4 separate regions of the Homo sapiens genome follow, and all the other regions are linked to region 2. The links come from fine-mapping of genetic effects on gene expression. A gene starts in region 2. Each other region holds a variant in brackets. All regions are shown on one strand. Distances are between the middles of the regions.

Region 1 (8,027 bases), 200 kb after region 2:
ACCCATTAGTATTACATGTATTTTCAGTGAACAGAGCTTATAACCCTTATTATAAGAAGCTCATCAATAAGCAAAAAGATACTTGTTTCCTTTCCTTGGAGGTTTTTCCATCCTTGGGATATTCTGCTGTTAGGGATGTTTTAGCAAGTGGTCTCAGTTACTGGTTTATTGCGTGATGAACAACATCAGTATTTATCTTTTATCTCTAAGCCCCAAGGTGGGCACTGTTAGAATATGTCTCATGTGGACAGCATATAGATCTGGTGCGTCTTTGAGGTCGTCAGAGCTCATGGGCTTCCCTGAAATTCATCCACTGTCCCTGCCGTATGCTACGGGAATATTCATTAGTGTACAAAATGCAGGGAGGAAGTAGGTTTAATATTCAACTTTCTAGCCAAAGTTTATATTGAAACCCAAAAGAAAACATTTAAGAGTTGTTCCACATATTTCACTTTTAAAAACAAATGCCTTTGGTTCTTTAGCACATTTTGCATTCCTTTTCACATCTCCAGTAAATGCCAACATATCTCCTGTTAAATTAGCAGCAGCCATTTAAAGTCCTTTCGGTGGCATCTGCATAATAATTGCCCAGAGATGCTTTATATCTGGGAAGCAAGCCAAGGAATAAACCTTGAAGCAAAGTGTATTAAATTAGTTATCTAGTTAGAGCTTTTGGAATGATTTCCTGATGATGTATCAAGTCTGAAGCTGGAGCTGTCAGTGTCTATTGCTGCAGTTTGGATTTGAAGGGAGAAAATGTAAAATGGAGGAAAAAAAAGTTACCATCTCACAACAAAGCCATCAAACATTTTCCAGCCGCTGTTTTCGAGGTTTTCCAGTTGAACTGTTTGGTTTCTTTCATCCACACTCATTTGGATACATTGACCCGAGGTATTCATCCTTGTTTACTGTGGTCCCTGAATCATGGGGGCTGAATTTGATGTCTTCATCCTTGAGATGAGCCTGCTGGCTTAGCTGAGGAATGTCCTGCTGAGGTTTCTTAGGTTTCCTTGGGTTCTAAGGATATACTGGATATACCATCTTTTAGCAAGAGTATCTGGTAGCATTTACAGATAGCATAGACATTGGTATGCACTTCTTTCCCCAGATAGGAAGTAAAGGAGGATTTAGTTGCATGAAAAAAGGATGTTAAACATTGATTACATAGGAGTAAAGATGAATGAGCTGCAATATTCAGTCGGAGCTAAACAATAAGATCAGGGAAGGTAAAAATACCTATGTGGAATATTTTGAATCGTAAGCTTTTGAGGAGCTTAAATTGAGAGAATTTTACTTTTAATTTTGTAGATTGAGAAGAGGAACCGCTTTTTAAAATTATAGCTAAACTGTCATTGTTTTCCTAAGAGTCACTTGGCCATCTCTGGCCCCCTCTTTCATCAGCCTGAAGAGAGGGTCTTTGTAGACTGCTGAGGGTGGGCCTTGTAGGACTTGACCATGGCTTACACCTACTTAACCTTTATCCTGCTTTCTTTCAGCTTGTGCTTTTCAGTTATAAACTCCAGTGGGTACAGCAGGCTGGCCTTTTCATCCAGCTGATTATTTTTCCAGCTTAATATAGATTGACCCATATGAAATTTCCAATAATGGACCATATTTTCTGCAAATAGACAGTACTCGCATGGATCACCTATATCTTCCCCCTGATACACTGTGGGTCCCAACACCAGATGTCATTTCTCCAGAGCAGTGCTAATGAACACAAAAGGTATACCCTGGGTGGCCCAGCTCTTTTCACGAACGTGCTGCCCTGCTCATAGTGATCCTTGCATCACTTGGTGAATGGGCCATCTCCTGGGACATGGAAGTTGCAGAGGTAGATAGTGCACTGCAGCTTCTCTTAAGCCGGATTGGCCATCAGGCATATCACTCTGGAGTTTTTAGCTGCTGTCCTTTCCCGATGAACAGTCTGTATTAGCTGACCTCAGCCTACTTGTTACGTGACGTATGGGTCCCAAAAGTGTCCTTTGTCAAAAAGCAGAATGTGCCTTCTAGTCTCCCTTTCCCCATCTAATGGTGTATTCGATGGTGAAGATGAGTACAGTTGACCACCCCTATCTGTGGGTTCCACATCCCTATATTCAACCAAGTACAGATTGAAAAATATTTGGGGAAGAGGGGAAACCCACAAAGTTCCAAAAAGCAAAAGTTGAATTTGCCACATGCTGAATACTACATTGAATTCACACAAATGAAGTGATGTGTAGGCATTGAGTTAGGTATTGTAAATAATCTAGAGATGATTTAAAGTATGCAAGAGATGTGCATAGGTTATATGCAAATACTGTGCTATTTTATATAAAAGACTTGAACATCCATGGATTCTGGTATTCTCAGAGGGTCCTTGATTGCCCCCTTTGGTAAAGGACAACTATTTCGTTACTGATTTTCGTTTGGGGAAGATCTGTCAATCCCTTGAGGTGCGGGGGTTGGGGGGATGGAGGGTACAGGGCATTCTAGGATGTGTGCCAGGGAGCACAGATTCAAGGGATGGGATTGAGTCAGACCTGTGTTCTTACTCAGTGTCAGAAATAACTCTGTGGAGCTCCTAGAGTAAGACATTTCCGGAAGCACCACATAATTACTGTTGGGCTCTTAGGGTAGCCCTTTTAGGGAATTGAGCATTCCCATGTTTTACCAACAATTATTCTGCTGCTGTGTTTTATTATATTGCCAATGGTTTTGAGACACTCATCATGCTCTTATTTAGTGATTTCTTTTCATGAGCAGAGCAACAGCTCATCCAGCATGGTTTCCAAATGGAGAAATTTGGGTCTTCTGTAGAAACCACACAAATTCTCCAATGGCCTACAGCCTTATGGTTGGCACACTAGTTGGCCCTATAGGGTGGAAATAAAGCTGTAAGATGTTAAACTGCATTTGATACTTCTCTTGAACGCTGAGCAAGGAAGCAAAATAGTTCTTGTCTTTACTTAAGCTTCTAAGACATTTTGGGGCAAAGGACCTTACAGATGGCGTCTGTTGAAAGTAACAGCAACGTGCCAGGGAGAAATGTGGGGGAAATCTCATCAAATTCTGCCACCTCAAATGTGTTGTCCAGAAGTCAGTGTTATTCAGGGGGCCCTGTGAAACTTGACCACCAGCTTGCGCCATCAACACTCAGCCTTTATCCAGCCTGCTCTCAGCTTTTGTGTTTCTGTTAGAAACTCAGATAGGTAAGTATTTTTATTCAGTAGACTACCTTTCTTATCTTTTCAGCTTAATATAGCTGCATCTTCTTTCTCAAAGCCAAACTAAGATATTCTCTATTAAAATGTCCATGAGCCTAGCATTGAGTGTCTGGCATCCATCAATTTCATAGACTGGAAAATGATTGTTGTTTGGTACAGTAAAGAAGAGGATGTGCATCAGTTCCTACCGTTTGCAGCTTTGTTTTTAGCCTTCCCATTTTAAAAATAAATTCAAGGACATTGAGTTACAAGGCAGGAGGGCTGGAGCTACTGGGCAGCCTGAATATGACAAGCATTTGTGTGGAAAGTCATTGCTCCTTCTGCCACACTTTGGGCCATCAGGATCATTCTTTCCCAGAAGTGCCATAAACTTGCTCAAAAGTTTCTATAAATGGGAAGAGGGAGAGGAAGGATTTTTGCATCAGTCCTGAAGTTGCTATCCAAAAGTTCTCTGTTTCACAAATAATTTTCTGAACTCTGGAATGCCTCTCCTACTCCCTGCCTCCCTTTCTGTAATGTCAGAGTGATGGAAACCACCAAGTGGCATGCTAGGGAAAGCCTGCAGCAGTGTTGGAGTCTATTTCACCCTAGCTCATAGTTTTAAACTGTCTTCACTGTTGAGGTAGAGCTTGATGAATGTCATGGATTATGATGTGTGGTTTATCATATTTGCCTGGATTTGCTGATCAAAAGCACCATCTTCCCTCGCCTGCTGCTGGCAGCCTTTCCTTGCCTTGCTTGTTAGCAGAGCATTCTGCTTACCCATGTGGCTCCCAGAGTTAGCAGCCCCGGCTCTTGGATTTCTTGATTCTTCTCCCCTGTGATCTCAGAGGTGCTGCAGAGGACATTCCCCTTTAGAGCAAGTCATGTTTCTATTCAGGCCACAAAACTGGGATGTACATGCAGTGACTTTGGTGTTCCTTGTCTTGTTCAGGGGAACGGGTGGGACTGTTGTGTGCTGTCACCCTCTTCATTCCATGAGCACCTTGTTCACTTAGGGTCTGCTGCCTTTTTTTTTTTCTTTTTCTTTTTTTTTTTTTTTTTAGTTTTTGAGATCGTGTCTC[A/G]CTCCTGTTGCGCAGGCTGGAGTGCAGCCTCCAAAGTAGCTGGGATTATAGGCGTGCACCACCACACCCGGCTAATTTTTATATTTTTAGTAGAGACGGGGTTTTGCCATGTTGGCCAGACTGGTCTCAAACCTCTGACCTCGTGATGACCCCCCTCGGCCTCCCAAAGTGCTGGGATTACACCCAGCCTCTGCTGCCTTTTCATATTTCCCCATCTGCTTTATGGATCAACTCTCAACAGTACACTTTTTCTTTTCTTTACCTACCCTATGAGTGCAACCCAGATGTAAGAGTTAATCCTCGTCAGAGAATCATTGCCTTAAACCTCTCAGAAATATGTAATTAGGAAATCTTATTTTAATTTTTTAAAAATTGCTTGTATAGTTTCAAAGAATAAGATCTGGCAAATGGCCAGATGTGGTGGCTCACACCTGTAATCAAACCAGCACTTTGGGAGGCTGAGGCAGGCAGATCACCTGAGGTCAGGCGTTCAAGACCAGCCTGGCCAACATGGTGAAATCCCGTCTCTACTAAAAATACAAAAAAAAAAAAAAAAAAAAAAATTAGCCAGGCATGGTGGCACATGCCTGTAATCCCAGCTACTCAGGAGGCTGAGGCAGGATAATTGCTTGAACCCGGGAGGTGGAGGTTGCAGTGAGCCGAGATCATGCCACTGCACTCCAGCCTGGGCAACAGAGTGAGACTTTGTCTCAAAAAAAAAAAAAAAAAAAAAAAAAGATCTGGCGGATGAAAATAACCAGAATGAAAATAGCTAGAAAACTCAGCAAGCAGGAAGCTCCCTTTCTCACCCTTTTGTTCCCTTGCCGATAGAATCAGTCACTATTAGAAAAAATGAAAGACGCTCTGTTTAAAACAATGATGACAGCAGTACTTAATATGTATTTCGAGGTGAACTTATATAGATTGAGAGAGGCTGCATTTGGCAGACTGATGTATAGGAAGACCCATTTGTTTCTAGCTTCTCCCTGCAGGGAAAATGCTTTCGTCATTATAGCCTCTTTACACAGACTGGCCATTCTAGTGAAACAGGTGGTAAACCTTTGGGCTGCCCAGAAACATTTTATCTGTTTTCACTTACCTAGGAAGGGGAAAGATTAGCGGGTCATCCAAAATCTGTATGTAAGCTATCTTCATTTTCTTCCCCAACCTTCTCCTCCTGGGAAACACAAATGCTATCTCATCTGACAAAAGGTTTTAGAGGATAAAGCTGAAAAGATTGGATTGGGATCTTTTTGTGGCTTGGGGCGGAGCCTTTTGCTAAAATCTCAAGAATGCTGCTTTGAGTTTAGCTAGGGTGGCTCTCAGAACTGGGGTGCCTGGCATTCTCAGCATTTCTCAGGGGCCTCCCACCTCTGACAACTGCAGTGTTAGCTAATACATACCTTGAGCATAGAACTGAATGCTGTAATTCAGAGCCATTTTTTTTTTCAACTTGAACATTGTACAATTTTACTGCAATTTCCTTTGAACTTTCTTGCCACTGTTTGGAATCTTAAAAATTCATTAGCCTTCTCCTTTCTGACATAAAGCTACTCTTCATCAGAGATGAGTTCCTATGTATGTCCTTTGTTCCTTCAATAGCTAATTAATGTGCTTGAGGATACTTCAGTGGAAAAAAAGGTTTAAATATGCAAATTACTAATAAATGTGTAACCTTATGTAACTTGTGTTACATCAAGTAACAAGCTAATCTAGTTTGTTTCACTGGACTAGGCTTGTGCTCCCTACTTCAGTATTTTGATGCTTTCCTTGATCTTTGTTTCACAAAATGTTGTGAATTTTGGTATCATTCAAAACAAATGACATTTATTAGGTTTCATTTTGAAACGATGTACAGACAAGTCCCCAACTTAGAAACCGGTTTGTTCTTAAGGTTCTTGCGTCAGCCCATAGAAGCCCACTGACCTCCACCACAGCCCAAATGGAGGGCTGTGATAGCCAGATCTGGTTGGCTTTTGTGGGCTGACCCAGACATTTAATCACCATCTCTTATGTTGTTGCCGTAAGAAATGCATTCCAGGTTGGGACTTGGGATCCTGAGAGCACATTCGCCCCCTGTGGTGGCCGCTTGCCACCTTGCAAGATGGAAGCCCAGTCTCCTTACTACCAAACTGTAGTTGTAAGCAGAGGGAGGGGTGAGATGTTTATAGGACATTCCCTAAGCTGGGGAGTGATTTTTATCACTATTCATGTCAACTGTACTTTGGTATAGACTCCCTATCAATTTAATAATATGAAAAGCCTAAAATAAAACTATGCATGCTATTCTATGTGCTATTTTATATCAGTAAATAAGCTTATGCTTGCCAGTTGTATACACAGTTATGAGGTGTATAGAACTGACTTTGACAGTATTTTTTGCACTGTTTCCTATCTGTTTTTATAAAGTCTTATTTAGATATTGGACCTTGTTGATGTTCTCACTGCCCTTGTGCTTGCTATAAAATGTTTCATATGTGCCTTTACAAATGTGAGATCTTTATTCTAACCTTTTTTTGTAAAAGATATCTATTGATTTCCATATGCAATAAACCTTTTTTTCAGAGAAAAGTTACATCTTCTCTTTTCTGTACTGTATATGTTTGCATTAGTTGAAAGTGCCTGGGAAAACCTGCATGCTTTGTTTTCTAAAGCCCATTTATTGCTACCCAGTTTTTAGTCCTGCATAACCTTATCATACTGAAGATTTAGTTTGAAATTCCCAAGGTTGTCACTGTTAGAAGAAACCTGAAAGGGGTGATCACTAGGCAAGTGGAGTGAAGAATACATAGAAATGGGTCTTTCTCACAAATGCAGCAATAAGCCTCGTTAAGCTCCAAGCCCCTACTCACTCCTCCTTCACTGTCATTTACTCAGGTACCAAACTGTTGATGTGGAAAAGGCAGGCACCAACCAGGCTGCTGTAGAAAATTTAAATTCTTGCTTTTGCCTTTCAGCTTTATAACAGCTCAACTTGTGTCCAGGTTTAAAGGTGGCTGTCCTGTCCCAGACTTTCAGCCAGTAACCACCATAGCACATTCACGGTGAACCCCTCATATGTGGGTAGATGCTTTATGTATCCTTGGTAAGTAACAGAAAAGTATAACAACTTCTCCCAGTAATGCATTGACAACCCCATGACTATACAAGCAGTTGTTGAACTACCAGAGATCCCAACTAGTTTCACATCAAAAAAATGAGAATACTGTAAGCCACTCTGGGGTGAGAGGATATGGCAAGCAAATCTCATTAAACATACACTTAATTCTCTATGGTGACTGTGGCAACAAAGCAATTATAATTATTGAAAGAAAGGCTACATAATGTTAAAAAAGATGATAGTAGACAAAATAGGCCAATGAAAATGGAGATAAATCGGGTAGAATGGCAGGAGAACAGATACACTAATTCATTTTCTCTTTTGTGAGCTGAGCAAATAGAACCAGTTTCTTTTCTTTGGTTGATAAACAGAAAAAGTAGAGGTTTGTTACATAATTGAGAGAGAAAACAGTAACCTGGTAGACGTATTTGTCTCCAAATATACTGTTAGCAGAGCTGGGGAAGAAAATTTTTAAAAAGAGAGAAACAGAATAATTCCCCACAAAACTAAAGATAAGTATAAGAAACAGCAACGCACACACACAAATATGCAATAAGATGACAATACCAGAACCAAATATGGCTATTTTATGTGATTTTACCTCTTATTTTATTTAATGAAAATAAATGGGAAAAACTCACCAGATTTACTAGT
Region 2 (8,027 bases):
GGGTTTCTTTTTTCTTTTTGAAAGAAGCTTGAAACTAGCTTTTATATATTTATCCTGAGAATGAAAGGTTTTTGTCACTTCAAGCTGTACTTTCTATTTAGAAAATATTCTTTTTTTTTTTTTTTGAGACGAAGCCTTGCTCTGTCGCCCAGGCTGGAGTGCCATGGCGCGATCTCGGGTCACTGCAAGCTCCACCTCCTGGGTTCACGCCATTCTCCTGCCTCAGCCTCCCAAGTAGATGGGACTGCAGGCGCCCACCACCACGCCTGGCTAATTTTGTATTTTTAGTAGAGAAGGGGTTTCACTGTGGTCTCGATCTCCTGACCTCGTGATCCACCCGCCTCGGCCTCCCAAAGTGCTGGGATTATAGGTGTGAGCCACCGCGCCCGGCCTTAGAAAATATTCTTATTTGTATTGCCTTTCTGTGATCTATTCTAAAGAAAAAGAAATATGGCTAGTCAGATACACTCTATAGGCTTTTAAGTTAATAACGCATATTTTTTTTCTTTTTCAAGAGAGGATCTCACTCTGTCACCCAGGCTGGAGTGCAGTGGTGTGATCTCAGCTCATTGCAGCCTCGGTCTCTCAGGCTCATGCAATCCTCCCACCTCAGCCTCTCTAGTAGCTGGGACTACAAGCCTCGAGCTACCATACCTGACTAATTTTTGTATTTTGTGTAGAGTTGGGGTTTCGCCATGTTGCCCAGACTGTCTTCCTGTAAGTAAAATTATCTAAATTTTTAAAATGTGTCCACAGGGTTAGTGCTAAATCTTAGCTTTACTTATCATTGAACACTCAGCCACATTCATTGGAGTCTCAACATTCATTTTCATCTGAAGGCGGTGTGAAAACAGTCCTGTCCCCAGACACTGGCTTTATCCACTGGCTTTATTGCTTAGCTTCCTCCACAGGCATGCCATCTATCTGGAGAAGAGTACTTTGATGGAAGTTTAGTCCTGGGAAAGACCTCAGAGATGAACTATTCCAACCAAGCTCTGCCCTCTTTGCCACACTCTACTTAGAAAATAAATTCAGGCCTAGAGGTGAAGTGCCTTGATCAGGGTCCCAAGGCTGGTCAGAGGCAGAACCGGAACCCTTGTGTCTGCCCAAGAAGGACAACAAGTCCTTTGCTGCTTCTTTTATGCCACAACAGCCTCAGGGTGCTGTGCTCAGTTTGGTAGCACAGTGATGTTAGAGCAACACAATATATTTCCTAGTGTCTTTTCACTAGAAAAGACACCAAGCAAGAGGTCTCCCATCTCCCAGGAAAGAGCAAAGGCCAGAGTTTTACATTGAGATCCTGAAGGCATTTTCTTATCTTTAATCCTAATCCTGTTTGGGTCCAATTTCAAAGAGATGAAGAGCATGCACTTTAGGCCTGACAGACTAGGGCCCTGATCATATCTTCCTAGTTGTATGACCCTCAGTGAGACAGGTAATTTCTTCATGCCTCACTTTCCTCATCTAGGAATGGGGGAGTGCTTTCCACACTTTCTGGAACACAGTCAGGCACTGCCTAATGTTTTCTTTGGAAACCCAGCACGTCTGTACAGCTATTTCCTTTAAAATGTGAGAAAGTTGATTTCCCTTCAACCTTTTCTTTCCATCACTTTTGCATTGCACTCGGCGTTTTCTCTAATTTACAGTTCTAGAGATTGGCAGATGCTCGAAGAAAATCAGAGTCACTACGGATTTATTTATTTTATTTTATTTTATTTTATTTTATTTTTTTGAGAGGAGTCTGGCCGTGTAGCCCAGGCTGGAGTGCAGTGGCGCGATCTCGGCTCACTGCAACCTCCGCCTCCCAAGTTCAAGCAATTAACCTGCCTCAGCCCCAGAGTAGCTGGGACTACAGGCGCACGCCGCCACCCCCGAAACATTTTTTGAATTTTAGTAGAGACGGGGTTTCACCGTGTTGCCCGGGCTGGTGTCGAACTTCTGAGCTCAGCCAATCCCCCAGCTTTGGCTTCCCAAAGTGCTGGGATTACAGGTGTGAGCCACCGCGCTTTTTGGTTTCCAATTCTCTTCCCCAAGAGGCCAGGAATTTTTGCATGAGTTGCCGGACACTGAAGTGATTTGGGACAATACATTGTGTGCCAACGACTTCAAGGTCCCTTTTCAACAAAGGACTGGAATCTTACCGAGATAAATCCCAAGACATGTTTGTAGCAATGCAAAGGACCACAGAAATCTAGACAAATTATTTAATTTTGCAGCTACAGAAACCTAGGATCTCAGGGGCTGGGATACTCCTCAGTTATCCAATCGGGCAGGGCCTAAAACCCAGGTTCAGTCGCCTGGCTCCGAGCTTTTTCCATCATACCAGCTGCGTCTCATTAACTCCACCTCCGAAAGTGCTAAGGAAGTTCCCTCCCAGTGCCTACCCAGGCAGGGTGGGGCGATTCTGTGGCATGGAACAAACCGGGAAAACGACATTTTCCAACTCTCAGCACACAGGCTGCTTTTTATCATTCCTACGGGGCGGGAGGGGGCAGGGAGAGAAGGCTAAGACACCGGGTCCAGTACCCAGAGATTCTAGGGAGAGATCTCTGAGATTGCCTACTTGGTGAGGCCACCTTACTTTCTCCTGGTCTGTTTTCCCCTGTGGGGTGGCTGCATGAAACGTCCTGCTTGGAGGGTTCCCCAATATAAGGTGGACTATTCTGAATGTAGGTCGGGGTGAGCAAGTTCCTGCCGCCGCCCCGTCTCTGCGGTCCTCGGAAGTCTAGGTGGGCTCTTCCTTGCCTTGCCTCTTTCTCCCCAACGGCGGGAGCAGCCCAGGGTTGGGGTGGCTGCGGTCGCCTTGCTCTCTCCACTTCCACGTCTCTTACTCCAGGGAGTTTCATCCGGTCCTCCGTCCTCGGCCCCCACCTTTTAAAACATTTTCCAAAACTACCCCATTAAAAGTGTGCGACTTCTCCGGGCCTGCAGAAGGAGCTCCTGCAGCCCGGCATTCCTCGGATTCCAGCGCTGTGACGTCCCCAAGGACGGCGCGCCTCCAGCTCGGGAGCTCGGGAGCTGGGGCTCCACGTTTCAGCGCGCGCCCGCGGCGCCCCCGGCGCGCGCCCTCCCGGGCCGCATTCCTCCCCGCCCCCGGCCGCGCGCCCAGCGCTCCCTCCGCCTCCCGGCCCCCAGGGCCGCGGAGCCCGGCTCTGGGGTGGGGGAGCCGTGGCCGCCGGCGCCTGCTCCGTCCCCTCCCACTCGCACGGCCCCTTCCTCCCTCCTCTCCCGGCCGCTCGCATTTCCTGCCGCTCTGGCTCTCCCGGCCCCTCAAAGTTCTTTCCAACTTTTTCTCGGCGGAGTGAGCGCAGCGGGCGCAGACTCGGGGGCAGGTTGCTGTGCTTCTCCGGGCTCAGCCGCCTGCTCTCCTGGCTCAGGTCCTCGGGGAGCCCTAGACAGACATCAAGTGGCCACTGGCGCTCCTTCCCCTCCCAGCTGAGCCATCCTCCCCGGCCTCCTCGGGCGGGACAGCCCCGTGCTTAGGTTTTTCTCCTTTTCTCCCCCGGTGCGCCTCTGCTCGGACTCTCGCGCCGGGATCGCGGCGGAAACCTCCCTCCCCTTTCGCCTCCTGCGGCTCCTTCCCTTCGCCCCTCCTCCGCCAGTCACTGGAATCAATTCCGTGGGGAATCGGCTCCGCCGCCGCGAAGGACAGCCTTTCCGCGCGGGACTCCGGGGCGCCACGGGGGCCATGTAAGCAGGTAAGCCCCGTCCAAGCCGGGAGTTGGGCCCGAGGTTGGAGGCCGCCTTGGCGCTCCGGGCGCCCTGCAGATGACTTGGGCAGACGCTGGCAACGCCAACTTGCGATTGGCGCCCCGGGACGCCTGGCAGGGCAGCCTGGGGCGCGGGGTGGCCGGGCCGCAGGGGTGTTATCTCGCGGTGGGAGCTGCCCGCGGTGAGGCGCAAAGCTGGTCCCGGGAGCGAGCTGGAAGGTGAGCGCAGTCTGGGGAGTTTGTGGTTAAACCCACACCCTGGTCCCCTCTCTCCATTCCCTTCTGCGTTTTGGGAACGAGAGAGGGCCTCGGAAGGGCAACTAGAGATACCTAGACCTTGGGGGCTAGAGGATGAAAGACGAACGACGTCGCGGTCGCTGCAGCGGTAGGGGGATGCAGCTGCCCGACGCTCCCAATCACACCCCACCACCACCGGGAAGGAATCTTGAGGGGAGCGGAGTTTTCCTGCCCTCTCACTAGGCCCCAGTGGTGCCACCGAACTCCTGGGCGTCGAGGCTCCTACTTGGGTGGTCGAGCTGGCTCGTAGAAAAAAAGCTGTGGCCAAACAATTTCAGATCAGGTCTTCACCTCAAACTTCCAAAGTTGTAGGTATTAACAGCCTCTCCTTCCCCACGTGACCCCCAGATCTCAGGTTTGAATACTTGTAAATGGGGTTTACACCTTTTCGTTTGGAGAGAGCAGTGAGGTAACGCTGCCCCTATCTCCCTTTCCCTCTCACTTCCTTGGGTTCTTGTTCTCCAACCTTCTCATCCCCACCTACAATTTCAGAAATTGTGGGGTTTCCGCTTAAGTCTAGGGACTGGCTGTCGCAGGTTCTTTGTGAAGGTGAGGAATCTCTAGACTGCAGGTGCGGGCAGTTACAGAGTTTCCACCAATGTGTTAACTTCTTGAAATGGATTAGTTTACTCATTCATCCAACAAACCCAGCTTCTACTCTGCTAGGAACAGGATAGAAAGATGCTAAATGAGATCACAGGGCAGGAGTCTGCAGCCTAGTGGAGGAAACTTGAAGGCCGGTGAAGAATGATAATACATGGAAGAGGGGTTCTGTGAGAGTCTGAGGCGAGCTTGGTCCTGGTGAAGGGTGCACTACACTTAGAGGATAGAGGTTGTGCTCCTCTGGAGGGTGTATTCCAGGCAGAGGAAACAGCTCGTGCAGAGTGAACACAAGAAGGACAGAAAGTTTCCCTAGCCATCTGGGGGCCTGAGGGGCATTTATGGCCATGTTGGTGCAGTGTTGCTGGGATAGCATTCTCTCCACCCCCAATATCAGAAATAAATCTAGAAGCACGTTAGCCACTTATGGGAACCACAAGTAGCTTACCGAGGAGCCAAGGCCTCCCTAATTGGATACACCTCCATGCCTGCTGCTGTTTTACCACAAGCAGCTGTTGTATGATCATCTACATTTTAATTGGCCCATGCTCGGTTTCATTAAAATGGTATTGATTCTTCTTTTTTGTCCCCCACATTCAAGCAATGATTCCTTTTTTAAAAAGGCTGTTTGACAGCCGTAGGTGTGGTAATACCGCAGCATTACGGACCTTGTATTATAAAGTTAGCTAATTGTTTGGTGATGAGGTTGAAGCTTGTGCCATAGAAATGACAGCCTTAATGAGCGGGAGCTGAATGGCATGATGCCCTTTTTGCCCAGTCTGAATGGGTGGCCATGAGGTGCAAAATTCGTTCATCTGTATGTCACTAAGTTTGTTATACTTTTCTCTGCTTTTAAGTCATTACTATTGCTTTAGCACAGTTGTGCTAAAGTCGTTCTTTTCTCTGAAACTTTATGAAAATAGAAAACACTATCTTGCACATTTTTGTAGACTAATGGCCCAGGATTCAGCAAATCCTGCCTAGAAAAGTTTCTTACAATGCAGTAGCATTCTGTACGTGGTTTGCCTTTCAAGGGTGTCTCTTCACTGGACTGAAGTGGTGTTGTAGTATTGTTCATAGTGGCTGAGTCCTGGCTGAGGTGGCAGACATCCAGCTTTTGGTGACCTCAGGCCAGTACATCAGAGTGGGAAGAACACACTGACTTCCTACAACTTTGGGTGTTTATCCAAGCCCCTCTACCAGCATCTTTTCTTATCTCAGGAACAGCCCCTTCACAGAAGTTTTCCTGAAGGTGTAGGGACCTGCATGAGAGAAATGGCTGAAGAGAAGCCCACTCCCACTAATCCCAGACATTTGCCCAGTTTCCATCATTGGCTTAAACATGTAATTATTATTAACACTTGAGTTATTCAGATTTGTGCATACTGTGTCATGCTGGTAGCTGTAATAGAAAGGACAGTTAGGCTTTTAATAGGGAAGCACCATAAGGAATTCAGAGAAAAATCAGAATTTTTAGAATAATTCTTATTTGCCCTGAACGGATGGGCTAAGTGTCAAGAACTATGAGGATTTTTTATTTTCCAGTGCCTTCCTTCCTTATTAGAGGTTTAAATTTGCTCCGGGGAAGCAAACATCAACCCTTTGATTACATATTATAGCCCCCCTGGGTTCCATATTCTTGTCATTTTTGAACAAGGATTTCATCAAATTCTTGCATTTGAGCTTCATTACTTAGTCACCAAATGCTGTGTTTTTAAAAAATTCATTTTAAGCCTGAGAACAGTGCTGTGAGCTTTGTTAGAGATAAGGCATGAGAAAGACAAGATGAAATACTTAATTAGCCAATTAAGGAATGAGGGAAAACAAACACGAAAGCTTTGGTAGGGAGGAGGTTCAAGTTAATGTTAAAATACGCTTTTGGATCTCCCCTTACGGATTTAAATTGATTTAATTTACGCTTCCTCTGTATGCATCCCATGGAGGGCTTATTGAGTGGTCCAAGGGGTATGTGTGGCAAATTCTGTAGCTTTTCCTGGCTGTCAGTGTGCTGGAGCAGGCGGTCCAGGTTTGGGAGTTTGAAATATAGCTAGGTTGGAATTCTAGCGCTGCCATTTTTTAGCTGTGTGATGTTGGATGGACGTCATAGCCCTTCTGAGCCTCAGTTTCTTCATCTGCAAAATGGATCTGGTAACATTTGGCCTCTCAGGATATGTATGGAGAATTCAGTGTCATGCTGTATAACAGTACCTCACACAGAATAGGTCAAGGATGGCTATTTATATGTTCAAGGACTTGTATGTGGCCATGAATGTGCTCTTTGTGTGTGATTTTTTTCAGCAGCCTGAATTCACATGTGTGTCAACATACACATAAAGCTTTGTTTTTGACTTTTTTTTTTTTTTCAGTCTATTGGCTCAAAATAAACATGTTGGCTGGCAGCTGCCATGTGGCTCCTCCTACAAGAGGAAATTGAGAGGTGGGGGACCAGGCAGTAGAGAAGTTTGAGGAGGGAAAGCCACTGAGAGATTAGAAGGGCAGAGAACAAGATCCTTTTCCTTGTATACTTCTTACTGTAATGATGGTCCAGTGTTTTATATAAGGATCCTTGTATTTCTAATGTTGAAATCTAGTTGATTAAAGAATGTTAGGATAACTCTGTCTGCCTTTAACTAGAGTACAAAAGCTAGCTGCTGTATCTTTGCAGCCTTGATTTCCCTTTTTGAAGCCCAAATATAAACAGTAAACTGCAACACTTCTAGTGTAATGCCAGCCACTGGTTATTTGAACTTTAATGTTGTCTTTCATCTGAGAAGCCTAGAGTATTTGACAAACGTTAAATCATAGATCTTCGTATCAACCTCAAAGCGGAAGGGAATGTTAGAAGGAATGAACAATGTTAGAACAATGTTAGAAAAAAGGGCAGGTATGCAGCGTGTGTTCTTGAAACAGGATGGCAAAGAATTGGTTAAATCTTTTCTGCAGGATTGCGTGCAGGGCTGGAGATCATATGAAGGTATCCTACCCCTTTGGGGAATCGGGGAGAGAGCCCAGGAAAATGCAGGCCTGACCTGGACTTTTGTAATAGGAGGGGAGAGGAAATGTATCTTGCCCAGACCAGCAGTGCCTTTGCCATATATTGCATGCATGCTGATTATGAAAATAAATAATCTTATAATTATTTATAATTCTGAATTAAAGGATATGATGCAATGCTTGTGGATGAAGGACACAGAGTAGCTGTGTAAAAGGTAATAGTGACTAAGTGCCTTTTTGTGTGATAAGGGTAGTTCTGGCTCTAGGTTGGGTTATAAATGACATATTAACATTGTTTTACTTTCCTTTCCTTTTTCCTGTTGGTTCTGTGTTTCTTGACTTTTCTTCCCCCCTCAAGCTTTTGTTTGATTTTCTTCAGGATCCTTGCAATTGGAAAAAACATTTCATAGCCATTCTTAGATCAAC
Region 3 (8,027 bases), 190 kb after region 2:
TACTACTAGTCATCATCATCGTAGTAGTAGTAGTAGTGATAATAATAGTTTGGTTTTTTGGTAAAGCACTTCAGATTATTTTGTAATTAGATAAGTTTATAAAGGAAAGTATGGATTATTTATATATGTCTGTAAACAGGTGCTTTGAAATTATTTGAATGGTTCAAACCTACTTTTTTCTCTTCAACAATGTAAACATTTCCCCTATAGTCTGGTTTACACTTTTGCCTTAGGATGAGGTTCACTGAGTATCAAGAACCTTTAAACCTGTTTCTGTCCTGAGCTACTACAAAATCTAAATTATTAATTACATTTTGGGGGTTTTTGGAGTGTCTGAGGATTACATTTCCATACTTTTCTCTTTTGTCATGGTTGTGAAAAAGTCATTAAGGCTTGGAATCCTGTGATTTTTCTTTTGTGCCTAATTGGAGTCATGAACGCACCCCTCCCTGCACAGCCCTGCTGAGCCAAGCAGATGCTAGAAGGCATGGGGGGTATCATGACCCCCTCCACCTCACACACATGTTGCCTCCAGAATGGGGGTTCATCTTGGGCTACTCACATAGCCCCGTGGAATCCATGCTGAAAAGCAGACTCCCCAAAGTCTACTTTAAAACCCAAAAATGAAGTCAAGCCTCAGTTGACATTCACTCATCAGTGAGGGGAAGGAAGAAGGGGCAGATGGATGCTCTCTCCCCACCAGAAATTGGCTCTGACAGGCGGGCGTTTCAAGGGGACTTAGCAGTTGTTCTGATCCCAGTCTGTTAATAGCAGGAATTGCTGTAAGTAATGTCTAGAATCATCTGCTTGAGGGACTTAGGGATTTGCAGAGGGGAAAACAGAATTTAATTTTTAAAAAAGTACTATTTAATTTAAAGAACAAATTCTCCCACGAACTAATTGACTCCCAGCTGGTCCTGTCTGGATCCAGGACTGTACATTGGGTACCAGCCAAATAATTAGTGTCTTGTAAGAACTATAAATTATTGTCACTTAAAACACACACACACACACACACACACACACACACACACACACTCACCATCAGTTCTCTTCCGCTCCCCCCTCCCCAACTTACATGCGAAGCCATGGAGGACTTTGGTGACAGAATTTGCATTTTGTCCTGCAGCCTACTTGGAGGAGATCCAGTCGGTCCGTCGCCATACCAACAGCATGCTGGAAGGCACCAAGAACCGGCACCCGCCCATCGTGGTCCACTGTAGTGCTGGGGTGGGAAGGACCGGCGTGCTCATTCTTTCTGAGCTGATGATCTACTGCTTGGAACATAACGAAGTGAGTCATTCTGGGCTTCTCTCCGGATACTCCACCTTGGGGACAAGTCTACACCCTGGCCAAACCTTTGCCTGCACCCTTGCATTTTCAGTGGTTAATTTCCTGTCTCCCAACCAGAGTTTTCCAGGCTCCTGGTTCCTAGTTTGACTCTGACATTTACAGCCCTCCTTATCTTTTTGCCCTCCCACTGCTCCGTGTAGATACCCAGATAAAACAGGAGAAATGAGGGTGTGCAATAGAAAACACTTAGAAAATGTGATCTTAGGCGGCATCTACTTCCAGAAGTCTTTGGCATTTTGTAGATAGCCTGGTTTTATTGTGGGTAATTTTCCATGGTGAGTTATTTGACCCCATATAGTTTCGATGCATCTTGCATTTCTAGGATGTGTTCTGGCCTAAATGCTAGGTGAAAATGTGTCTACTTGGAAAATGTTTTTCATTCTTCAGAGTGAGGTTTGAGGGGTTGTTTGCTTGTCTAGTCTGGTTGTTGCGTGGTGTAGCGGAGCAGAGTAGATACTTTGAGCACGCAAACATCCCCGTCTTTGCATCAGCGGGTCACCCTACCCCTTCTCCCTGCAGAAGTGGGGTGCTGCTGAGCCTGTGCACACAAGGTGCGTGGCATTCCTTTGCTGCTGTAGGATTAGGGAGTTACACTGAGAGACTTTCAATTTTGTGTAGGTGAGACAAACAGCAGTCAAAAGCTAAGGAATAGTTCTACCTTCTAGCTACGTGGGACATTAGAAGTTTTAAGGGGCTTTTGCCTGCCATATCAGCCAAGTAGAGGAGCCATGAACATGTCACTCTTCCTATTTCACAGAAGAGGAAACTGAGGCCCAGAAATAATTACATGATTTGTCTAGTGCCATGTGGCTCTTACGCAGTGGTACTGAAGCCAGAAGCAAGGTCTGTGTCTGGGTCCAGAGTTATTTCCTGTCTTCACTCTGCCTCCAAACGCTGAGTAAGATTTGGTTCTTACTCAGTTTTCAAATTATATGGCTTGAAAAATTAAAGGAAACTTGTGGTTTGGTAGTTTTTAAATTACAGAATGATTTGTTGCAACTCTGTGGAGGAATTTATATGATAATATACCTATTTATTCAATAGCATGAATCGTTTGAAAATCAGATTAAATATTGCTACATGAAGTTTGTCATATTGAATCATCCAGGAAAACAACGAATGCTAAGCTTAGACATTAAACTCTCTGCCCATGAAAAGATAATTTTGAGAATCTTCCAGTCTGTCCATGGGAATGAATGTTTGTGCTGCTAAAAATTGGAAAAGGGGCAATCCCAACTGTAGCCCAATGTTAGAAAAACATAAAACAAAGCTTGAGCGAAATGTTCATCATGGAATCAGTTGAGACTACATAACAGAAATGTCATTGCCCTCTGAGTTTTTACCATTTTGCCCCACATAGGATTTTTTTATTGTTTGCCTCTCTATTCCCATCACTACTAGAGGTCTCTAGAAATCTCTAGAACAATGAGTAACCTGCCACTGAGTCTCAATCCATCCATTGCTAGGAAGACAAAATAAGATGAGGTAGAATCAGTGTGTGCATGGCTTGAGGGCCTCATCATCACCTTCCCCACCTAATCGTCCTTTCCTTCCCTTCATATCACTTTTGTCACCAAATTCCCCCCTTGTTTTCTTTTCTTTTTTTCTTTTTTTTGAGACAGGGTTTTGCTATGTTGCCCAGGCTGGCCTCAAACTCCTAGGCTCAAGTAGTCCTTCCACCTCGGTCTCCTGAGTTGATGGGATTACAGGCGTAAGCCTGGCCACTCCACTTCTTTCCCCATTCCCTGTGCTCCGCTCCCTACTTCCCCTTTTCAACTCAAGAAGCCATTCTGTCTTGTCTGACACGAAAGACTATTCTGTTCTGAGCTCTTTGGAGACCCATCAAAGGCTGAGCCTCAGTGAGGCAATGACATGGGGGCTCACTGAACACCAGATGTTACTGGTCTGGCAGAGCACAGACAAGCATATCAAATCCGGAACAGTTTGGAGTAAGGGATTCGGCCAGTGTGGCCTCCTGTGGACTTGGTGAAGGCTCAGGGTGGTTAAATGCTCTATGGTGTGTCCAAACATAGCGGATTTCCTCAGTGCCCAACTGCATGCCAGAACATTCTTTGCTGGGACGTGGTCAACCCAAAAAGAACTTCTGTTCCCATTGATATTCAAAGATAGCAAGATGACTCATATTTTTCACTTCTCTTCCCCTAGCACAAATATAGCCAGTCTTATCTGTCCTATTTCCCATGGTTGCTATTGGTAGATGGTTAGCGGGGAGAAATGCTCTCCTTTTGTTCTGGTACTGTTCAGGCCTGGCTAGTAAGATCCAAGCCCCTATTTCAGGAGAAGAGTAGACCATGTTTAGTTTATTTTGTGTTTCAAGCAAAGATTTTAACAAATATATATTAAATTGTGGGACCATTTTTCTCCTGTCCAAACTCCCCTGCCTTCTTTCCACAGCTTCTGGATTTAGCATACTTTATATTTTAGTCTGTAATTCATGCAGTTTTAATTCTGTCAATGAAATGGCCTTTCTTTTTCCTGGACTTGTCCCTCTCAGTCTCATTCTAAACACAGAAAAGTTGAGCAGAAACAATGAAACACAGACACTTACAATGAGGTTGGTAGCTGTGCAGTGGGGAGTGGGGACAGCTGTCCCAGGCTGCTCTGGGAAGCCTCCCTGTGGCCCAGTGCTTTTGGTCACTGAGTGTTAGCTGAGACTTTTTAAGGTGCATAGAGTTTTTCAGAAAGCACTCGTTTTATGGTCTGCAGGACACTCAGTCCCTTGGATGTAGCTGTCTGTTCCAGCTACAGCTAATTACAAAAGGTCAGGATCTCAGTAGCCAAAGGGCAGATGTCTTGATCTTGCTGCTTTTCTGAGTAAGTTATACCTCCTTCATAAAGTGAGGAGGAGAAAATGTCTTCTAGACAAGATTGAGCAATTGTCAACTGCTTTGTGCTTCCTTGGCTTGGGGGCAGTTAAGAGCAGAGCCTGTGGGAGTGAATGAATCTTTAAGCCAGCTGGGACCCTTTCATTGAAGACCAGGAGAACTTTCTTTGTCATATCCCCAGACTTGAACATATCAGACAATATACTGTCATTTAGGCTCAGTCCTACAGGTAATTGAGATGGGGATGATGGTAGAGGAGGAGGAGGAGGATGTGGTGGTGGAGGAGGTGGTGAT[G/T]GTGACAACATTGAAAATAATATCGTAACAGCTAACTTGTGTCTAGTGTTTACCATGTATACGCACTATTCTAAGAGCCTGATAGTATTAACACAAGTAGCCTTTGCAGTGACACTGTGAGCTAAGTCCTGTTAGTATCTGTGTTAGTCCATTCTCACACTGCTATAAAGAACTACCTGAGACTGGGTAATTTATGAAGGAAAGAGGTTTAGTTGACTCATAATTCTGCAGGCTGTACAGGAAGCATGGCTGGGAGGCCTCAGGAAACTTACAATCATGGTGGAAGGATAAAGGGGAATTAAGCACGTCTTCACATGGCAGCAGGAGAGAGAGAGAGCAAAGGGGGAAGTGCAACATACTTTTAAACAACCGGATCTCATGAGAATTCACTGTCACAAGAACAGCAAGAGGGAAATCTGCCCCCATGTTCCAATCACCTCCCACCAGGTCCCTCCCCCAACACTGGGGATTTCCAGTCAACATGAGATTTGGGTGGAGACACAGAGCCAAGACCATATCAGTATCCTCACATAACAGAAGAGAAACTGAGTCATAAGTAAATGAAGTAATGTGCCCACTTCCCACAGTCAAGAAGTGGTAGAGCTGAGATTCAGCAGATGAAGCCTTACTCAGAGCCTGTGCTCTGAACACCAGTGTGATCCTGCCTCCTGGCTAAAACCTTTGGTGGGTAGGGGAGGGAACAGCCTTATTCTCTCTATTCTTTTATCTTCAGTGCCCAACCGCAGAGTAATCCTCATCAAACATGAAATTAAGTTCATTATTAGGTGGCTCTAGGTCACATCTTATACTGGTCACTTTGCAATATAATTTAGGCAGAGACCTACTTGTTACTGTCAGAAGCTTATAACCTAGGCTCTGTATTTTGATTCATAGTTCGAAGATTCACATGCCTTTTTTTTCTTTTCTTATTAGGCAGGGACTTGACTTTGTCCCTTTGCACCACTGTGATTGCACCACTGCACTCTAGCCCAGGCAACGTCGCAAGTTTGTGATATGCATTCCTTAGTTGGTGTTGAACAAGAGTGACTGATGGCACGTGTCATGTCATACCTATACACGGCTTGGAAATAGCTTAAATTATTTTTTAAGGTTCAAAGGTTACAAAGTCAGGCATACAGCTGAGTTTTTATTATTTTCTTTTAAACACTTGCTTAGCCCTTGAAAACTTCCTGGGTGCCATCATTTGCCCTGGGTTAAGAGCTCCCAGAGCAGAGTGAATGTGCTGAGGCCACCATGGCCTCCACAGCTCAGGGGTGCTCCAGCCGTATGTGTCCTGGCTAGTCCAGGAGGATGGACATGGTGAAGGTGAGGGGAGAGGACACTGTGACAGCCTCTGATCTGCTCAAGTACCCATGACACTGAATTAATTTCCTTTCATTAATGATAGTATATATCATCGTATATATTCTCAAAGAATTCACACATAGGCAATCTCATTTAATACTCAAAATGTTCTCATTTAAGACTCAAGGCTAGGCACAGTGGCTCATGCCCATAATGCTAAGACTTTTAGAGGCCAAGGCTGGAGGATTACTTGAGCTCAGGAGTTTGAGACCAGCCTGGGCAACAGAGTAAGACCTCGTCTCTACACAAAATTTTAAAAGTTAGCCGGGTGTGGTGGTGTGCATCTGTAGTTCCAGCTACTCAGGAGGCTGAAGTGGGAGGATTGCTTGAGCCTAGGAGGTTGATGTTGCAATGAGTTATGATCGCACCACTGCACTCTAGCCTGGGCTACAGAGCAAGACTCTGTCTCAAAATAGGTGTTCTCGGCCAGGCGCAGTGGCTCACGCTTATAATCCCAGCACTTTTGGGAGGCCGAGGCAGGCGGATCACGAGGTCAGGAGTTCGAGACCAGCCTGACCACCATGCTGAAACCCCGTCTCTACTAAAAATACAAAAAAAAAAAAAAATTAGCCAGGCATGGTGGTGCGTGCCTGTAATCCCAGCTACTCAGGAGGCTGAGGCAGGAGAATTGCTAGAACCTGGGAGGCGGAGGTTATAGTGAGCAGAGATTGAGCCACTGCACTCCAGCCTGGGAGACAGAGTGAGACTCCGTCTCAAAAAAAAAAAAAAGAAAAAAAGTGTTCTCAGTTGAAGGCTTTTACTCCAAGTAGGACTGGTGTTCAGAGATGGCGCTTTGACATTTTAAAGGTTTACACTTAAATTATCTCACTTGATCATGACCACAGTCCTGTGAGATTATAATTGCATTAATAACATTTATTAATGTTAATAAAGGAATAATGAGGTCAGGCGGGGTGGCTCACGCCTGTAATCCCAGCACTTTGGGAGGCCTAAGTGGGCGGATCACCAGAGGTCAGGAGTTCAAGACCACCCTGGCCAACAGGACGAAACCCTGTCTCTACTAAAAATACAAAAAATTAGCCGGGCGTGGTGGTGCGCACCTGTAATCCCAGCTACTCCGGAGGCTGAGGCAGGAGTATTTCTTGAACCTGGGAGGCAGAGGTTGCAGTGAGCCGAGATCACACCACTACACTCCAGCCTGGGCAACAAGAGTGAAACTCTGTCTCAAAAAAAAAAAAAGGAATAATGAGTAATATTTATTAAGCACTCACTGTGCACTAAATGCTTGATATGTGTTTCATCATTTGATCCCATGAGGCAAATGTTATTTCATACCCCATGTTATTGCTGAGGAAATGTAACTAACTAGGGCAAGGCCACACTGCTGTTAGAGGAAAGCATTATTATCCTGATTTTACAGATGAGGAAACTAAGACCCTGAGAGGTCTTAAATCCTGTCATTGGGTTGCAGGGGAGTTGAGAGTACCATTCAGGTCTAACTCCAGCCTTTATGTTTTAACCAGCAGACTAGTCTGTATTCAAAATAATACACCAGGACAGGTGTGGTGGCCCACGCCTGTAACCCCAGCACTTTGGGAGACTCAGGTAGGAGGACTGCTTGAGCCCAGGAGTTGAAGGCTGCAGTGAACTATGACTGTGCCACTGTACTCCAGCCTGGGTGACACAGCAAGACCCTCTCAGAAAATTTGAAATTAAATAAAAATAAAATATCCCACCAGTGACACATGATGACCAGGTTCTCCAGTTGCTGATATAAACTGTTTGATGCATAAAACCCAGCCAGGGCAGAGTCCCTTGCCTTCTCTTGTACCTGGACATGGGCAGTGGGTGAGTGCTTCCTGAATGAGGGAATGAGGAATGCTCAAAGGGAAGCCTCCTGTCTCAGGACCTTGTGCTTTCTCTCTTTTCTTGCAGAAGGTGGAAGTGCCCATGATGCTGAGGCTCCTCAGGGAGCAGAGGATGTTCATGATCCAGACTATCGCTCAGTACAAGTTTGTCTACCAAGTCCTCATCCAGTTCCTCCAAAACTCCAGACTCATTTAATCACCCCAATCCAGCTCCTGGAGGAGGGACCCAGCTCCATCGCGCTGGAGGAGAGTCACCTCCAGACAACATCTGCTCCCCCCACAGGGGTGCAGGTGGCTGGCAGCAAACAGGCTCTCTGAAGACAGTAGCCAAGATTATTCA
Region 4 (8,027 bases), 120 kb after region 2:
GTTCTTTCATCCAGGCTGTAGTGCAGTGTTGCAATCATAGCTCACTGAAGCCTCCTGGCCCATAGTTCCTGGCCCAGGAGATCCTCCTACCTCAGCCTGGGTGTAGCTGGGACTACAGGCATGTGCCACCATGCCTGGCTAATTTTTTAAAAACTTTTTTGTAGATACAAGATCTCACTGTATTGCTCAGGTTGGTCTTGAACTCCTGGGCTCAAGCAATCCTTCTGCCTTGGCCTCCCAAAGTGCTAGGATTATAGGCGTGAGCCACTGCGCTTGGCTGATCTTTCTTAATATTAACAATGATGACTCCTGACATTTCATGAGTGTTTATGGCCAAGCACAATTCTAAGCTCTTCATCCATATTAACCCATTTAGCCCTTGTAACAACTTTTTGAGTTAGTACTATTATTCTGATTTCACAGAATAGGAAACTAAGGCACAGAGAGGTTGAGTAACTTGCCCGCACAGTTTGAGTACATGACAGAGCTGTGATCCAAGCCTACACAGTGTAGCTCCAGAATCCACACATTTACCACTATGTGCCGTACCTTTCCAGTTAAATCCATTCTAGTCCGCTGTGCCCCCAATTTATGTCTTCTTACCTCCAGCCTTAAATATAACGAAATGGTAAAGAGCACAGGCTTTACAGTCAGACAGACTTGGATTTGAATTCTGCTCTGCCATTCACTCTTTGTATGTTCAGGTGAGTTATTTATCCTTCTTAAGACTCAGTTTCTCCATGAACAGAAGCTCTTGTGAAGATTATACTGGTTAATAAACAGAAAAGCACACTTTGTAGTACCTAACACTATCATCATTATTATTTGACCTCCCAATTTGTATCTGTACCACCCATTTATATAATGTGGTGTACATACCAACTCTAAAGCATCCTTCTAAAGGATTGCTTTCATCATTTTCCTTCCTTTGTCAAAAATACATAATGTCTTACCATTGCTTAGAAGATAAAGACAGACATCCAGAGGCATTTGAAGCATGGCAAGCCTCTGTCTTCCTTTTTGTCTTCTGCTTCCTTACATAGCCCTATTTTACTTGTCTGTGCCGTTCAATGTCTCTGGACACCCTGGGTTTCTCACTTCTTCCTCTGCTCTTTGCAGTACTTGAAGTATCTCCCTTTTCCTCTTTCCTTCTTGCCTTAGAAGCCTCCTTTGCCTTCCAGACTCACCTCTGGGCATTCATTCAACACATTAATTATTTTCAAAGTATAAGGTATTCTGCAAGATATAGAGTGGCACAAGATGTCAGTCCTGTCCTGAATGGGGTTTTCAATCTATTTGGGTAGATTAGATGGTCACATAAAAATATTTGAGCAACATATTAGTATGTGTTGGATGCCAGCTGAAGGTACCTTTCATGGGTGGAATGATAAGGAGGAGCTTTGGAGACGGGCATTATTCAGTGATCTCCAGAGAAACAGAACTAATGAGATGTATATGTAAATAGGGAGAGAAACTTATTTTAAGGAATTGGCTCACATAAATGGAGAGACTTGACAAATGCAAAATCTGCAGGGCAGGCCAGCAGGCTGGAGACCCAGGGAAGATTGAAGTTCAAGTCCAAACACAAATTCTTCCTTCTGCGTGGTCCATCTTTTCTCTGTAAGACCTTCAACTGATTGGACGAGACCCATTCATATTGTGACAAGCATTCTGCTTTACTCAAAGTCTACTGATTTAAATGTGTTAATCTCATCAAAAAATACCTTCACAGAAGCATCTAGAAAAATGACCAAATATATGGATATCGTGGCCTAGCCAAATTGACACATAAAATTAACCATGACAAGAGATGTCCCTGGAATTGGGGCTTTGAAGAAGACATTGGATTTTGGTGAGTCAGCATTGTTAGGCAGGAAAACAGCCTGGACCAGGGGCTATAAGCCTGTTATCTCTCCCAAATACCTAAAGCGGTAGCTCCCATCAGTATCAAGGGCTCACTGATGGATGAGCGGAAAGTGTGAAGGGAGAACATTCCGAGCCAAGGAAATTATGTAAGAGGGGAGGAAAATTGCAATGCAAAGTCCTCAAGGATACCTAGAATGTGGTAGGAAGCAAATAATCGTAGCACAGTTAGCCCTGGATTTATATTTCAGCTAAAGAATTTCTTAAAGTTCAAGGTTTCCCTATTACTGTTGGGTCACACGTTCACAGGATGAAATCTCCTTCTGTATCTTGAAACTAAGTCATGCAATTTCTTCTTTAGAATTTTAATCTGATGAGGTCATTAAGGAAAAATATTTTCTTAATCTAGAATTCCCAGTATGTTCATTATAAAATAAATTCCTTTTCTTTCTTCTCATAAAACCCTGTTTTGAAAAAATGTATCTACCTTTAGTACTTCCTAAAATTATTTTGTCAAATACCCTATATTGATCCTTAGCATGAAGTAAGTAGTGTAACTTAACACAATTTTACATAATTAATATTCTAGTTGGCTTGGACAGCCCATTTTGGGCAAAATATCAAGGATTTTTCATTCATTGTTCATGCATGCATTCAATAAGTTTACTTGAAGACCATTTGGGGGATAAAAAAATAAATATTTACTGAGCATCTGTTATATACAAGGAAACTTCTGGTTACTGGTAATACAGCACTGAACAAAACAGATGAAGTCCTTGATCTCCTGAAAGTCACCTTTTTTCAAATATTTGTAGTAGTTTATGACTGTCAATGTTTTTACAGAGTTCAAATTAAGAATTATAAAAGCATGTAGTACTCTAGCTATCTGAATCATCAAAATCAGCTACCAAATTGTATTCTCTCAAACAATTGTGAAACAATGCATTTTAAATACTAAATAATAGCTTGTTTTCATGTAATATTATTACAGATCTCCTTCACTGAGAAGATAATAAACATATAGAAGATGGTCATGTGAACATATCTATTTCTGGGTGGTAAACTATAAAGGAGTCCATTATGTTTATTCTTATTTGCATATACTTATGATCATATTCTTCTTTAGACTTAAATCTGTGATCATGACTTTTATGAGGAAATCATCCTGTCTATAAGCATGGTCATGCCTTTAAGAATTCATGAAAATTATACGGAACGGGCTAACATGAAAAAGTGAGGCAATATTTGGGATTTCATTCTGTGAGGAAAATGTACTGGACTTAGTTTACTAATGTAAAGTCGGTGGTGGCTCTAGGTGAGTTTTCATAGAAACAAGAAACTTCAGATGGCAGAAATGCATGGCTTAGTAACTATATTATTAATTGCACAAACTTGTTTTTTCTCCCCAATCTTTTTAGTGCATGCCTTTTGATCAAGTTATACTGCAAAGACCATTTTTAAAGTTACAAAAAATGATGATGTTTTTAAAGTGTAGTGGTTTGATAATAGGGCTCAAGTGGGAAGAAAGGAAATACCCTTTATTTGGGCCTTCCAGAGATTTTGCCAAACCCTGGGTGAGAGCAGTGTTTCATTTCCTGATTCCTACCACCTGTCCACTTATTCACTGCACATTTACTACATGGTCTCTTTGCCATTCTTAATCTGGACTCAAAAGTCAAATAATAGAAATCAGAGGGAAATATGTGTGGACTTCGTTCTATAAAGATAGTTCTTTTACAAAAATAGGCAGAGGATTTGAGGGACAAGGAAGAGGAAGAAGATGATAAAAAGGAAAAGGGAGAATCCATTACTATATCAAAGATACTTCCTCTTTTAAAATGATTAGATAAAATGTTTGACTGACGTGGTTTGATGACTATTTTGAATATGTAGGTTTTAATGAAAGATTATGTGGTTATAATTTTTAGAAGACAGTCAAATCCGTTTCCCCCAAATCTGTTTTGTCTGTCAGTTTTCAAAAAGTGAGAAGTCTTTATCTGAAAGGTTTAGTTTAGTTGCTCAGGCCAAAAATCTTGCAGTCATCCTTGAATTCTTTCTCCCATACACCACATCCAGCCTTCAGAATATGTCTGGATTCTGACTACTTCCTTCTGCGTCCACTGTAACCTCTCTAATCCAGTCTGCTGTCATTTTTTCTGACTGGCATTTCCGCTTCCACCCTTGCCCCTCCCAGTCCAGTGTCTACAAAGCAGCCAGTACCATCTTGT[A/T]AAATGGGTGCCTGTTTATGCAGCTCCTTTGCTCAGTACCTTCCACTGGTTTCCCATCTTACTGTCGTCAGAACCCTTACCGTGCCCTGCGAGGCCTTTTGTGGTTTGTACCACTTCCTGCCTTTTCTGTCAGCCCAACGATTCATCCTCTTGCTCACTCTTTGCTACATTGACCTCTTGAACATTCATGAATGCACGACACTAGCTCTCCTGAAAGCCTTTCTACTTGCCATTCCCTTTGTTTGAAGTGAAAACCTCCATCCCCCAAATATCCACATGGCTAGCTCCTCATTTTTTTTTCAGATCTTTGCTCAGAGTTCGCTTTTATTAGAGAAACCTTTCTTGACCACCTCCTACCTTGCTACTCTCTGTGTCTCTTGCCTGCTTTTTTCTCATTGGACCTATTGTTTATTTACTTGATTTTTGCTTGTCTTCCCCACTAGACTGTGAGCTCCATGAGCAAGAGCAGAGAATGGGTTTGTTTTGTTCACTGTGATATCCCTAGTGCCTAGAATAACTCCTGGCATGTAGTAGGTGCTCATTAAGCTTTTGTCAAATATGAATGAATAAATAATGGAATATATGTATGTATATACTTCTGATATTTTACCAGTAAACTAAGTTGGTTTACTTTTTAAATGAAAGTACTATAAAAGGATAAGAAATCATTATACTAATTTAATAGAATCTGACAGCTTTTATAATGATTTCTATTCAATACATTTTATGCTGGTTTCATGAACATTAACAAATTATAGGAGGCCTTATATTTTCTGCAATCATAATTTTTTTTTTTTTTTTTTTTTTTTTGAGATGGAGACTCACTCTGTCGCCAAGCTGGAGTGCAGTGGCACGATCTCGGCTCACTGCAAACTCCAACTCCCTGGTTCAAGTGATTCTCCTGCCTTAGCCTCCCGAGCAGCTGGGACTATAGGCATGCACACCATGCCTGGCTAATTTTTGTATTTTTAGTAGAGATGGGGTTTTACCAGGTTGGCCAGGATGGTCTCGATCTCCTGACCTTGTGATCCGCCCGCCTCGGCCCCACAAAGTGCTGGGATTACAGGCGTGAGCCACCACGCTGGCCTGTAATCATAATTTTTTTTAGGAGAAGCCTGCTGAGATTTTTTTATTTTATTTTTGTTTTTAAAGAGAGAATTTGAATACCTACTTAGTACTTCTCTTCTGGAGAGTGCTCTCCTTTGAATATGGCCTGATGCCCGCAGGGTGTGCCCCGTACAGCCACTGACTGCCCCACACTGGCATCTTCCCTGGGCTTCACGCCCCTGAATTTTTGGTTCCTAAAGAGACATTTAATGCGCTCCTATTCTGGTTTCTAATGAGAGAGTTTTAAGTTCTTAAGTCTAGGATGAAAAGGAGGAGTGTGTTTGTAGCAGCCTTCTTTCATGAAATGAAAGAATTGAAGAATTTCTCTGATTTGGGAATTATAGTTCTCTGCTTGGCAATCCTCCATCCCTCTACCCATGTCCTAAACAAAAGGTTTCCTATATTTATGTGTAGTTACTTGTCACTTTGGCCATCATTTTTTTTTTTCTCTAGGAAGTTACAGTTTCTAACTTAAAGTTTACTATGTGTCAAGAGTTATAAAAGATGGTCTTGTAGAAACTAAGGCAATTAGAAAACTAAAACTCTAAAAGAAGAAAGGATGTTCAAAATGATTTTTAAATTGCATTTAACAAATGAAGTATCTCCTCCTTTAATCCTAGAGCCTCAAGAAGGGTTTGAAAGGAAGAATTGTAGAGAGACATTTCCATGCTTGAAAATATCAAGCATGATTTTGGCAGAAATCACAGCATAGGAAGATACTAGATTCTTGGGCAGTGAGATGTTTGCTGGTTTGGTATTTTATCTCTGGCAGTTGTTGCCACATTTGATGTCTTCAGCTGCTTTGAAGATTCTGCAAAAGAAAATTATTCATTTCTAACATTAAAAATTCATTATGTTGTCAATGGATTCATGTTGTGATCTGTTTATAGCCTTCTGTAGTTTTTTTCTCTTCTTCCTTCCTTTTTTTTTTTTTTTTTTTTTTTTTTGCGATTTATGCTCCAGATTGTAGAAACTATAGACTAACCTACTACACAGGCACAATGTTGTAATAAAAGAGCACTTGACTGTAAAATCAGAAGACTTGGCAAGTCACCTACCCCCTGGGAGCCTCCGTTTCCCCGTGGATAAATGGGATAGTGGCTATCTTGCAGGGTTGTTGCGAATATTAAATGACAGGAAATATTATACATGACAATTCTTGGAAAACAACTGCGCAAATGCAAAGGGCTATCATTGTTAATAACTATTTGAAGGCTCTGATTTCTTAATATCTAGAGAAATTGATAAAAATTCCAATTGTGGAGAATTCAGTTCTTCCAAAGCTTTTGATAGACATGTGGTGTGTTTTTATTATTTTTTTCATAGTACACTAGGAACAACGTAAAGTTTCTTTCAGCCAGTATGTAATTGACTGTCTTTTAAATATGTGGCCATAATAATATCCTGCTTTAATGTGAATGCATAGTAAGGCGGTCTGTTGGGGGAAATACAGACATGAACAAGGCAGTCTTATAAAACAGCAAAGGAGGCAAAATAGATGCACATAATTAAGTTGTTTGATCAGTACCATGTTAGAGTTACAAAATCAATGGGAACACAGAGGGCGGAATGAGTTATTCCAATTTGTTGACTGGGGAAAGGCTTTATATTATGTAATACCTAGAGTGTAGGTGATTTTGTTTTTTTCTTTCTGCTGAGTCCAGTGTTGTTTTATGCCACCTATTTGGGTGGCTAACTTCCAGAAAAGCATTCTTTTTTACCCACTGGGTGTCTCTGAGTCAGTAAATGATCATAATGCTTTTTGTGCAACTACCAAGTCTAGGATCATCTACTGAGTCTGTGAATTGTAGAATAGAGAGAGGTGGTTCCCGCCTTCAAGGTACTTCTGGGCTAGTAGGGTGCTAAATAGAGATTGATGGGCTGGATGGACCTGGTGGCCCATGGCTGTAATCCCAGCGCTTTGGGAGGCCGAGGCAGGTGGATCACTTGAGGCCAGGAATTCGAGACCAGCCTGGCCAACGTGGCATAACCTCTGCCTCTACTAAAAAAAAAACAGAGATGGATAGGCATGTTATCATTACAAATGCATAAAATCTTTAATATTAAATTGCTGTGATTGGGGAGAGGCTGAACATGGATCATAGTGGCCACATGGAATGTAGGGTGGGCGGGCCGGGCACGGTGTCTCACACCTGCAATCCCAGCACTTTGGAAGGCCAAGGCATGGAGATCGTCTGAGGTCAGGAGTTCAAGACCAGCCTTGCCAACATGGCAAAACTGCATCTGTACTAAAAATACCAAAAATAAAAAATAATAAAACAAAGTTAGCCAGGTGTGGTGGCACACACCTTTAGTCCCAGCTACTCGGGAGGCTGAGGCAGGAGAATCACTTGAACCCGGGAGATGGAGGTTGCAATGAGCCAAGATTGCATCACTGCACTCCAGCCTGGGCAACAGAGCAAGACTCTGTCTAAAAAAAAAAAAAAGAAAGAAAGTGGGGTGTCCCACTCAATTGTCTCACCACAGGTCCATGCTATGGAAATTAAAGTCATCCAGCAGGATCTCCGAATTATCTCTCATATTGCTGACTTCTGAGCAGATAGCCCCTATTTTGCTATTTCTGATAAACATTCCATCCAGCTTTTGTGTTTGTTTGTTATGTCTGTGTTTTCAAACGTTCTTTTAATATGGGTTACTTGTGTGGTACTCTGATTTTTTTTTTTTTTAATAGAGTCTCACTCTGTTGCCCAGGCTGGAGTGCAGTGGTGCAATCTCGGCTCACTGCAACCTCCACCTCCCAAGTTCAGGCAATTCTCTGCCTCAGCCTCCTGAGTAGCTGGGATTACAGGCGCCCGCCACCACACCCAG

Which allele goes with the higher level. Positions count from the first base shown, and alleles are read on the strand shown. Sizes are in standard deviations (SD) of each study's normalised expression. Not every link is listed here.
As copies of T replace A in region 4, the expression in prefrontal cortex of the gene that starts at base 3,279 in region 2 goes down (large effect, 0.77 SD a copy in GTEx).

Evidence for each region. PIP is the estimated chance that this variant, and not a neighbour inherited with it, causes the effect.
Region 1: its variant is the best candidate, but not a certain one, in a credible set for the expression of PTPN14 in tibial artery (GTEx, PIP 0.76).
Region 3: its variant is the best candidate, but not a certain one, in a credible set for the expression of PTPN14 in fibroblasts (GTEx, PIP 0.64).
Region 4: its variant is the best candidate, but not a certain one, in a credible set for the expression of PTPN14 in prefrontal cortex (GTEx, PIP 0.60).

Annotation. Positions count from the first base shown.
Region 1 is chr1:214,347,517-214,355,543 of GRCh38, reverse strand. It overlaps PTPN14 (protein tyrosine phosphatase non-receptor type 14), which reads left to right. Exons shown (of 19, transcript NM_005401.5): 19 at 1-6,844. Among named protein-coding and RNA genes, the nearest start is that of SMYD2, 70 kb to the right of the region's middle. The variant A/G (reference allele first, on the strand shown) is at 4,274.
Region 2 is chr1:214,546,854-214,554,880 of GRCh38, reverse strand. PTPN14 (protein tyrosine phosphatase non-receptor type 14) reads left to right here and starts at 3,279. Exons shown (of 19, transcript NM_005401.5): 1 at 3,279-3,698. RefSeq lists enhancers at 2,153-2,973, 2,974-3,794, 3,795-4,616.
Region 3 is chr1:214,357,778-214,365,804 of GRCh38, reverse strand. PTPN14 (protein tyrosine phosphatase non-receptor type 14) reads left to right here. Exons shown (of 19, transcript NM_005401.5): 18 at 1,130-1,293; 19 at 7,755-8,027. The coding sequence ends at 7,883. Among named protein-coding and RNA genes, the nearest start is that of SMYD2, 81 kb to the right of the region's middle. The variant G/T (reference allele first, on the strand shown) is at 4,494.
Region 4 is chr1:214,424,151-214,432,177 of GRCh38, reverse strand. The region is part of intron 3 of PTPN14 (protein tyrosine phosphatase non-receptor type 14); the gene reads left to right. Among named protein-coding and RNA genes, the nearest start is that of PTPN14, 120 kb to the left of the region's middle. RefSeq lists an enhancer at 4,249-4,298. The variant A/T (reference allele first, on the strand shown) is at 4,092.